2 separate regions of the Homo sapiens genome follow, and region 1 is linked to region 2. Evidence: fine-mapped expression QTL. Tissue or cell type: tibial nerve. Region 2 holds a variant in brackets; the other region holds the start of a gene. All regions are shown on one strand. Distances are between the middles of the regions.

Region 1 (5,391 bases), 260 kb before region 2:
TTTAGCTGTCCATTTATTGGAACACAGGGCCAGTGTGAGGCTTTTATAATCTTCACAGAGTGGGGTAATAATATTGAGGCTGTCAATATGCCGCTAAAAAAAATAATGCAAGGGAAGAAGTCAATGGATCCAAGAGTTTGATATATTGAGAAATGAGAAACCTACTGTGACTAGCATTTTCTTGTCATTCTGTAACAGAGGTAAAATCAGAAACCTGCGATTACACACTGCTGGTGGTATTTTGCCTGAAAAAGCCTCTCGGTGTGAGAATTGCTAAGTGCCTCTTTCCTGAGAACAAGTATGAACCAAGAGATAACCCAACATTCCAGATGGTATCATCTCCTTAAGGGAGAAAGCAGGGGAAAAATAAAGTCAACTGTGATTAAAGACGTACTTGACACAGAAACAAGACCAAAATGAGTAAAAAATCTTTTAAAATATATTTTTATAAATGCATCAGCAAAGTATGAAAACATGTAGACTTAAGTTATCACGTGTATGTGTGTGTGTGCGCGTGTGTGAACATCTATATATCCTCAACCAAATAGCACCAAAATTGTAATAAATTATAAGTACAGTTCATACCTATTTTTAAGGATATTAGTATTTAATTGTATGGGCTTATAGTTCTGTGGAAAAGTGGATAGGGAAACAAAAAACGTTTTCAACACATATATGTATAACCTATCCTATTATGTTCATGTAATCTTTAGCAAGGGCCTTATGTGACCTTAAAAGGAAGCGGTGGGGAGGGGGGCAGTTATAATTAAGAGGGCAGGCTATGAAATCAGATCTAGGATTGAATTCCAGCTCTGCCACTTACAGTTTTCAACGCCCAGATTCTTCATTTGTAAAATATGGTTAAACCTTCCTTGTTTTGAGAACCAAATGACATGAATATTGTGAAACTCTTACATAGAACATAGGATATAGAATACTTAAAAAAAGAGTAGTTGTTGACTGCAAACAGTAAAACAAAAGAATAAATAAGTCAGTCAATGGGGTAGTCAATGGCTATTTTCTTATTCAAAAGAAAAGTGAAGCTAGAATAATTTTAATGGGAGATTTTAAAGATTTTCTAACACATAATCTTATTTTTTTTAAAAAAAAAACAGCCCACAATTTTCAGCAGTTTTTACTTTCTTTTTTCTATTTACTAGCATCATTTGACATAAGTAGTGGAAATGAGCTTCTGAAAATATACTTAATTTTCATATTATAAATCTTATTTTCTATAGTTTTATTAGGAGACAGTGTTATAACATTTTATATCTGGCAGAAACTCGAATACAGTAATTTTAATTTATTCATTAATAATGAATAAATTAGATGAGATACGCAAGGCTCAGAAATATTAAGAATTGCTCCAAACACCCAGATATTGTGGAGCAGAGTCAGGATGGCAGCTGCAACCTTCTGACTTCCAATCCAGGGCTCTTCATACAAGAAGGCTGTCCTGTATATGTGACAGATACAAGTTCCTATCTGAACACTGTCTTTATTAACAAGTTTTCGTGTGCATAAATGGGTGCCTTTGAAGATCTGGATACTTAATTGGGGAGCATCATCTGGAGTGTTCATGTTGGCTAAAGTAGCTCTTGTCAGGAATACGTATACCAGCAGATGCATCAGTTAGAATATTCTTTTCTCCAATGGGTTTAAGACATACTTTCCTAAGAATTGAGTTTCTGAAACACTGAACAACACCCAAACCCTGCAATCCAAATTTGTTTTTGCCTATTACACTGAAGTCTCTCTGTTAACAGGCATATATAGAAGACAACCATTTTTTTCAATATAATATTTCATAAGTTAGATGAAATCTTTTGTTCCATTATATAAAGTTCAGAAAATCAACATAAAATTAATAATGATGTTAAAGAAACTACTGGAAACCAGATAAATACAATACAATCTATAATTGTTTTCAAGTTTTTTGGACATTTCGCATACTTCTCCAAGTTTTCTACATTATGTTATAAAGTTCTAATAAGTTCATTTATGTGAAAAAATTAACTTTTTTTGATACTTGATATTTATATTATTACTAAAAAGCACTTCATCCGAGAGAAAGTTTCAAAGAAAGCCTTCCTTTTATAGGAAGAGGAGAGGAACATTTAAACTATGTATTATTACCAAATTGATATTCAAAAAATATATTCAACTTCAAAAGGCAAATGACTAGTTTAGACATGCTTGAGAGAGAGACATTCACTTTAAGGTTCTGGGACAACTCCTTTGATATATCTCCATCTTAAAAACAAGCAAACAAACTCTTGTTTGGAGAGGGTATTTAGAGCCATAAATAATTTTTTACTGGGTCTATTTTTGAGTTGGAGCAGGAGTAAGAAATACATTTTATATGGAATTTTAAATCACTTTTCAATTTATGAACCTAGCCTAGAAAGTCTGTGTAAAATGAAATATTTTAAAAGTTACAGTATTATCTGTATCTTCATTTCTATATGTATGTATCTATCATCTGTGTACCTACTCATCTATCTATCTAATTATTCTTTCTTTCCAGCAAATGTTCACTTCTGGTTTCCCTACGTCTGCCTGGAAGTGGGGGCAGTATGGCAGTATGGAAGACCTAGAAAGGGACAAGGAGAGCTACAATAACAGCGGTCTAAATATATCCTAGGATGAAAAGGTGAGGAAGGAAACAGGCGCAGAAGTGTTATAAGAAACCAAAGCGGCCTTTTGAGAAGGGATGTAAGAGCAGGCCCCTGAGCAGTTTCACTTCCTCTGGGCGCCCAGCAGAGCGGAGCCCTGGCCTTGCGGGCATGAGCCCCGGGGCTGCGTTTCCTGAGACCTGGCCGCAGCCTCCGCGGGTGGCAAGCGGGCTGGGGAGAGCCGAGGGCCAAAGGAAGAGAAAATCGCGGGGAGTCTCTGGCCGGGAGAGTCCAGGTAGCGCTCGGCGGGCAGCAGTGCGCAGGCCCCTCGGCTTCAACCGCCACAATGCTGCCAGCAGCGCCAGGCAAGGGGCTTGGGAGCCCGGACCCCGCCCCCTGCGGCCCAGCGCCCCCAGGTGGGTAGTCGCGCATTCGGAGGGGCTTGACGCCGAGGCCGGGCTACGGGGCTCTGCGGAGACCACGGGCCATCGTTAGACAACTGCACTCGGGCACTGAGGCCAGGGCGTCCCTGAGACAGGGCTTCTCCTTTTTATCCTGCCGCCAGGCAGCCCAGAGGGTTCTTCTGTCCCTGACTTCTCTGAGGGGCATCTGGACGCCACGAGGAGGGAGCGCGCTGGGAGTTCTGGCCAGCGGGCTACCCTCAGTGTCTGCAACTTCTGAGGAGCTGGAACTTTCCCCAGCACCCGGGTCAGGGTCCTGTAGTTTCTAAAATCACTTTGCAACCTGTTTTAAAGCAATGCGCGTTTAAAATTATACGTAATTATTTTCAACAGTCGGTAAGCACAGAAAAACCGCTCATGTGTAGCGTCACGCATTTACCTGCCCGGCCTGACAAATCCCAGCCTGGTGAATTGGTAGCCCTGCTTCTTGGCAGGTGGCTTTGCAGAGAAACTCTACCAACACCACCTCCCTACTCCACTGGCTTTACTAACTTGGTCAAAGGAAAACGGTCAACTTGGTTGAATGCAGAAGTAGATTTATATTTTCAAATGGACGTTAAGGCAGTTTTATTTAGTTCTTTTTGAAGCATTTCAAATGCATTTGCAAATTACTCAGTGATATAAAAATGTTTTTTAAATTAAAAAACTTCACTTAGGTATTAATATTACTGGAGTGTTCGTGGTGAGAAATGCAACAAGAAAGTATATTCTGAGTGAAAGTTTCTTAATTTGCTGAATAGAAATAAATTTCTCATACCTTTCTAGAATTTTTTAGGTAATGTAATTTTGGTTGTAGCTATTTCTGTTGGCTAGTGCATTTTTACATAAATAAGCTTTAGGGATTGCTTTCAGTTAAATAAGAAGTATATTTGTGTCAATGAAAAGTGACAAGAAAGGACTTAGAGCCCATAACTTAATATTATTAATATTTTAACTATTGCATATTGACATTCTTGAAAACTGTGGCTCTGATGGTCTTCAGCAGAGCAGACTTTGCTAGCATCTATAAATAAACCAACCATGTCTTTCAAACTTTGAGCAGGTTACCTCTTTTGTAATTTCAGTTTAACAATTTTGTTAGAGAATGGGGTACAGTTTGTTTCAAACTTCTAGATTAAACAGTTTAGGCAGAAAATGCCTTTTATTTCACTTGATACTAAGCAATACTTTGAGGCACTTGCTATTGTGAATAATGCAAGAGTAATGTGAATCAATATTTATAGCATTCCAATTATTCTTGTTCCTCCCATGCATTCCGCTCCCCCCCCGCCCCGCCCCTCCCAACTCCTTGGGTCCTTCTCCATGCAGTATTTATCACTTGCTTCAGTTACTTCCTTTTCTGGCCAACATAATGAAACTTTTCTAAAAACGAATTGTCTTTTGACATTATCCCATGCCCATATTCTTGATATGAGTAATCTTCTAGCTTTTATAAATCCAGTGGTTTGTGTGTGTGTGTGTGTGTGTGTGTGTGTTTTTTTTTTTTTAATGAAGAGCTCCCTCTCTCTCCAACAACTATCTTAATATGGCACATTGGGGGTCAATTGGTCCAACTGCCTCATTTAGAGAAGAGAGCACTGAGATCCAGAGTGTGAGTTGCTCATGGTTTCATAACTAGTAATTATTTGAAGGTCACCCATTCATTAACTTAACAAACTTTTATTCCCTGCCAAGAGTCATGTAGTAGTAATAAGAATGTAAAATGGTAAACACAGTTTCATGCCCAGGAAGGTATATTTCTAGCAGGAGATAGAATGTACTGCTAGACAACATTAGTGTATACTGCCATCAGAGATTTATTAACTGTTGAGTATCGACTTGTTCTTTAATGGAAGCAAGAAAAATAGAATACCCAGTTCTCTAAAACAAGGTAAAAATGATGCACAATGGGTGAAAGTTCTAGTTAGAATGTATTTTCTGGTTTGTATTTAACTATATATTACTATCAATGTCCAAAAGAGAGATTCTTCCTGTTGTATTCCAAAACTAATGATTTTAAAAATTTAATTTTAACTGCTGTTTTAATTAGGGAGTGATTATTTATTAAATCACAGATTTTTCTCCACACCATAGTTTTTTTTAAATTTTTATTGATATTATTGGATGCATCTGATGAAACTTTAATAAATGATTTGCTTAAGAACAGAAAGCATGAAAGGGTGGAATTAGCATTTAGACTGTTTCACCTTACGCTGGATGCTTATACTTGTAAGGAACATGGTTTGTCTAGGTCTCTGCTCTCTAGCTTGAAGTTCTTAAAGATTTGAAGCTTTTTGCTTTGACTGCAATCTTCCAACATAGCCAACGTCCTACAC
Region 2 (5,391 bases):
GTCTATCATTGTTGGACATTTGGGTTGGTTCCAAGTCTTTGCTATTGTGAATAATGCCGCAATAAACATACGTGTGCATGTGTCTTTATAGCAGCATGATTTATAGTCCTTTGGGTATATACCCAGTAATGGGATGGCTGGGTCAAATGGTATTTCCAGTTCTAGATCCCTGAGGAATCGCCACACTGACTTCCACAATGGTTGAACTAGTTTACAGTCCCACCAACAGTGTAAAAGTGTTCCTATTTCTCCACATCCTCTCCAGCACCTGTTGTTTCCTGACTTTTTAATGATTGCCATTCTAACTGGTGTGAGATGGTATCTCATTGTGGTTTTGATTTGCATTTCTCTGATGGCCAGTGATGGTGAGCATTTTTTCATGTGTTTTTTGGCTGCATAAATGTCTTCTTTTGAGAAGTGTCTGTTCATGTCCTTCGCCCACTTTTTGATGGGGTTGTTTGTTTTTTTCTTGTAAATTTGTTTGAGTTCATTGTAGATTCTGGATATTAGCCCTTTGTCAGATGAGTAGGTTGCGAAAATTTTCTCCCATTTTGTAGGTTGCCTGTTCACTCTGATGGTAGTTTCTTTTGCTGTGCAGAAGCTCTTTAGTTTAATTAGATCCCATTTGTCAATTTTGGCTTTTGTTGCCATTGCTTTGGTGTTTTATACATGAAGTCCTTGCCCATGCCTATGTCCTGAATGGTAATGCCTAGGTTTTCTTCTAGGGTTTTTATGGTTTTAGGTCTAACGTTTAAGCCTTTAATCCATCTTGATTATCTCAATATTTGCAGAAAAAGCCTTTGACAAAATTCAACAACGCTTCATGCTAAAAAATCTCAGTAAATTAGGTATTGATGGGACATATCTCAAAATAATAAGAGCGTATCTATGACAAACCCACAGCCAATATCATACTGAATGGGCAAAAACTGGAAGCATTCCCTTTGAAAACTGGCACAAGACAGGGATGCCCTCTCTCACCACTCCTATTCAACATAGTGTTGGAAGTTCTGGCCAAGGCAATGAGGCAGGAGAAGGAAATAAAGGGTATTCAATTGGGAAAAAGAGGAAGTCAAATTGTCCCTGTTTGCAGACGACATGATTGTATATCTAGAAAACCCCATTGTCTCAGCCCAAAATCTCCTTAAGCTGATAAGCAGCTTCAGCAAAGTCTCAGGATACAAAATCAATGTACAAAAATCACAAGCATTCTTATACACCAACATCAGACAAACAGAGAGCCAAATCATGAGTGAACTCCCATTCACAATTGCTTCAAAGAGAATAAAATACCTAGGAATCCAACTTACAAGGGATGTGAAGGACCTCTTCAAGGAGAACTACAAACCACTGCTCAAGGAAATAAAAGAGGATACAAACAAATGGAAGAACATTTCATGCTCATGGGTAGGAAGAATCAATATCGTGAAAATGGCCGTACTGCCCAAGGTAATTTATACATTCAATGCCATCCCCATCAAGCTACCAATGACTTTCTTCACAGAATTGGAAAAAACTACTTTAAAGTTCATATGGAACCAAAAAAGAGCCCGCATTGCCAAGTCAATCCTAAGCCAAAAGAACAAAGCTGGAGGCATCACGCTACCTGACTTCAAACTATACTACAAGGCTACAGTAACCAAAACAGCATGGTACTGGTACCAAAACAGAGATATAGATCAATGGAACAGAACAGAGCCCTCAGAAATAACGCCGCATATCTACAACTATCTGATCTTTGAGAAACCTGAGAAAAACAAGCAATGGGGAAAGGATTCCCTATTTAATAAATGGTGCTGGGAAAACTGGCCAGCCATATGTAGAAAGCTGAAACTGGATCCCTTCCTTATACCTTATACAAAAATCAATTCAAGATGGATTAAAGACATAAATCTTACTCTTAATCTCACACAATATAATTTTGCCATAATACAATTAATACAAGAAAATTATTTTAATTAACAAAGGCATGAAATAACCTTATCAGAATGTTTGTGATAGTGTTGTCGATGTTATCATGAGGGTTCCAGGAAGGTCAAGTAAGAAAAATTATCTAAGATGCATCAGAGGCTGTGTTTTCATAGACCTATAAGGGAAGCCTCTGGAACCTAACTTGGTAGGAGTGGCAAATGATTTGATTCCTCCAAAGAAAGGGGCTAGCATGAGTTTTCTATGGTTTGCACTAAATGCCAATCAAAGACTGCATCCTTTTTAACTGTTCTCTTGCCTTCAGCACTTGATCTAACATTTCTTGAACAATTATTTGTTATGCAGAGAAGAG[C/T]TGAAAACTGTAGCCACAGAAACATCTTCCACAGACAGAATATTTTCTGCCTCCAGTTTTCCCTAAAATGTTTGTCTTCTGCTGAAAAGAAAGACTGTAGCAGATCATGTATTATGATTTTTTGTCTGACAATAAGGCCTTATTCAATGTTCAAAAATGAAAAACATTAAAGGTGGCAGAGGTAGGGGGTAACATTAGCTGCCCATGATAATGAATGTGTACATACAGGCCCATCTTTGAAATAACTTCAGTCCAAACTAATATTTCCTTGAAAATGGTGCCGGTAAATTGTTGAAAGAGACACTGGAATAAAACCAGGAAATTGTTTCACAGCAACTACTAACCACTCCCAGTCAGGCTCCTTTTTTGCCATTGTGAAGATGGCTGGGAATGGATTGCACCAAATTCTAACACCCACTGAACTATTAAATACAGACCTTCAATGGACCTGCTCCTAGGACATTATGAATCATCCTTCAAACAAGGGTGCATTCTTAAATGAGTGATCCTCACCCATCACTTCAAGTGGCATTTTTTCACAACAGCAAGGTGGTACTTAGATCATCTTCCAGTTAATACACGGTGTTTGAATGCAACACATGATGAAGCTGAACTTTTATTCTCTCATGAAACACTTTAATACACTGCTTGTAAATTTACATGCAAAAAACTCTTTATTTGACAGTTTTCCATTTTTAGTGATTTCATATTTAAGGAGAAAGATAGATCTTTTTTAAGTCTACTATTATCCTCCCACTGTGCCTTTAGCTCTCTCAAGAAATAAATGCAAAGCTACATGTAAGATCATTGTACAATTAGGATCAGAACAGCTACGAAAGAATTAAACAAAGTAGATAAGATTATTTCTACCTGGCCTCCCATACATACCTCACAGAGCTTTGGAAAGAATGAAGAGAGGAGATTTTTGGGAGAAAAATCCCTGAAGTGTTTTTCTTATAAATTATTCAATTACCATGTTTTTAATTAAATTATGTTAGAATTAAAGGGAAAATGCAAAGAAGGCCACAGGAGATGAAGAGAAATGACGAGTATCAAGTGTAATGAAGAGATCCTTGGAATGTTTGATCTTATCAGTTATCCTGGCTGTCCCACAGAGAGCAATGCAAGGAAGGGCTGCTAGTATCTGTTAAGCTTAGAAGAGCCCTGTCATTATTCTACCATGTATAGACAATTAGTACCCATCTGCCCACAGAAAAAGGGGAGGAGAGGGTGGTAAAGGGAAACGAGGACCTAATTATGCAATATTGTATTGATTACTATCTGTCCATATCTTGTTACCTAATTTGCATAATCAAGGTCAATTACCTCTAGATTTTTAAAAATTCTGTAGGGACTCAGATACTAACATTTTAATCATATTTTGTCTGTAATATTTTTTCTGTGTACATACTTAAATACAACTTATTGATGATATTTTTGATTAGTCATCTTAGAGCAGTTTCTTTAGATTCCTTTATTCCTGAACATCAGTAATGTACCAGAAGGGAACAGCATATTGTTTTATTTGTAAGGACTAAGGAAACATCAATCCTTATCAAATGTTTCTTTAAAAACCTCCCTGATGACTATAGTGTGCAGGGAAATCAGCAGTTAGCATGAAAACAAGATAATTTGGAATACTTAGTAATAAAAGAATTAAGTACCTAAATAGCTAACAAGGTTGATTTCATCCAACCATATTTCTCTAAACTGTTGCAGATATTATGATCATTCAGTCCATGTAACATACTATGCAATGAAAACTGCTTATTACCTAATTAATGAATATTCTTCAAATATCCTGGGATTTCATGGTGTACTAGGAAAAGCAGTACATACTTCACCAGTGATACTCTCTTTATTTGGTAGAACAATAAAAAGGGCCTTTTATATAATGTTTGTCAGAGGCAAGATTTTCTAAAGGGACTAGACAAGTTCTCTAAAGAAGGTAAAAAGGAATTATTATTTAACTCTTCCTCTATATGCTGGAGGGAAAAGGGATGATGAGAGCCAACTGTTTTCCCATTGAAAGTATAAGCATTTCAAGTGCACTAAGTTTAAGACTGGCAAGGGATTGCCAGGAAGTTACATTATTGCTAAGTCAAGGAATTTTCCTAAGGAAGAAAAAAATAATTAATTGGCACCATTTCCATGGAAACTCAACAGATTCTTCAACTCAGTTTCCACATTTTGAAAAAATGTAAGGAAAAATGCTGAGGACTTTGGATCACAGATAAAATTTTCCATCAAAACAGTTTTAAAGTCAATTTTCCCAATTTGGATTTGAAATTAGAAAATACTAGTGCTAGAAATTAGAAATTTCTAGTCAGAAAACTGCATTTGCCAGTGTGTTTGGAATTGATCAGGATTTTGAAGTCTGGCTTATGTTATCGAAGCTCACAGAGGACTGATTCATACCCCCAATTCCAATCATTAAACCTATAATAAGGGAAGATGGCTTTCCAGTGACTGGATTGCTTGCATTATTTGGTCTCTGCCAGATAATAAAGTTTCTATAAAATATACTTAGTCATTAGAAGATTTCTAAGTGAACATGATCAAGTCAAAAATGTTGAAAGAATTTAAGGGCTCCTTATTCAAAGATGGAAATATCTGGCTAATTTTCCTTGTTTTACAAAATCATATATAGTCTAGGGTCAAGTTTGTTCACATCTTGGACTGTACAGAAGGGCCTTTTCTATCTATATCAAGATCATCCCCATCTTACCGTGGATATGACACGTGGCAACTGATGAGGTTCAAGCATTCTTAACAAGCTGCCTCCCTGTAATCATAGATTACATCCACAGATCTCCTCAGCCATATAGTCAAATGAACCTTATCAAGGGTGTGTTGTTGCTCTCACTCTTAGAGGGCAAAAGGGTAGTGTAGGCAGCTAGGCAGACACGAGCAGGGCAGGAGAGGGCCACCCACCCAGGAATGTCAGACGACCACCAGGTGATGGTTAGGTAGTTGTTAAACTGTCTCTTTAAAACCGTAATTGGTCACAGCCAGTGCCAGTGAAAGGCAGTCTCTTAATAGACAGAAAACACCTGAAGCTGGTCATCAGCAGCTTCCCAGTAAGATCGCAGGAGTTGGGCAAGTGGGCG

Alleles and levels. Alleles are on the strand shown, and positions count from the first base shown. SD is a standard deviation of normalised expression in the study named.
With allele C in place of T in region 2, the expression in tibial nerve of the gene that starts at base 2,811 in region 1 is higher (large effect, 0.80 SD a copy in GTEx).

What was found. PIP is the estimated chance that this variant, and not a neighbour inherited with it, causes the effect. A credible set is the group of variants that fine-mapping cannot tell apart.
Region 1: BANK1 starts here. The variant in region 2 is the best candidate, but not a certain one, in a credible set for the expression of BANK1 in tibial nerve (GTEx, PIP 0.76).

The regions. Positions count from the first base shown.
Region 1 is chr4:101,787,920-101,793,310 of GRCh38, forward strand. BANK1 (B cell scaffold protein with ankyrin repeats 1) reads left to right here and starts at 2,811. Exons shown (of 17, transcript NM_017935.5): 1 at 2,811-3,031. The coding sequence starts at 2,962. RefSeq lists a silencer at 2,898-3,087.
Region 2 is chr4:102,044,423-102,049,813 of GRCh38, forward strand. All of the region lies in intron 11 of BANK1 (B cell scaffold protein with ankyrin repeats 1), which reads left to right. Among named protein-coding and RNA genes, the nearest start is that of BANK1, 260 kb to the left of the region's middle. The variant C/T (reference allele first, on the strand shown) is at 2,282.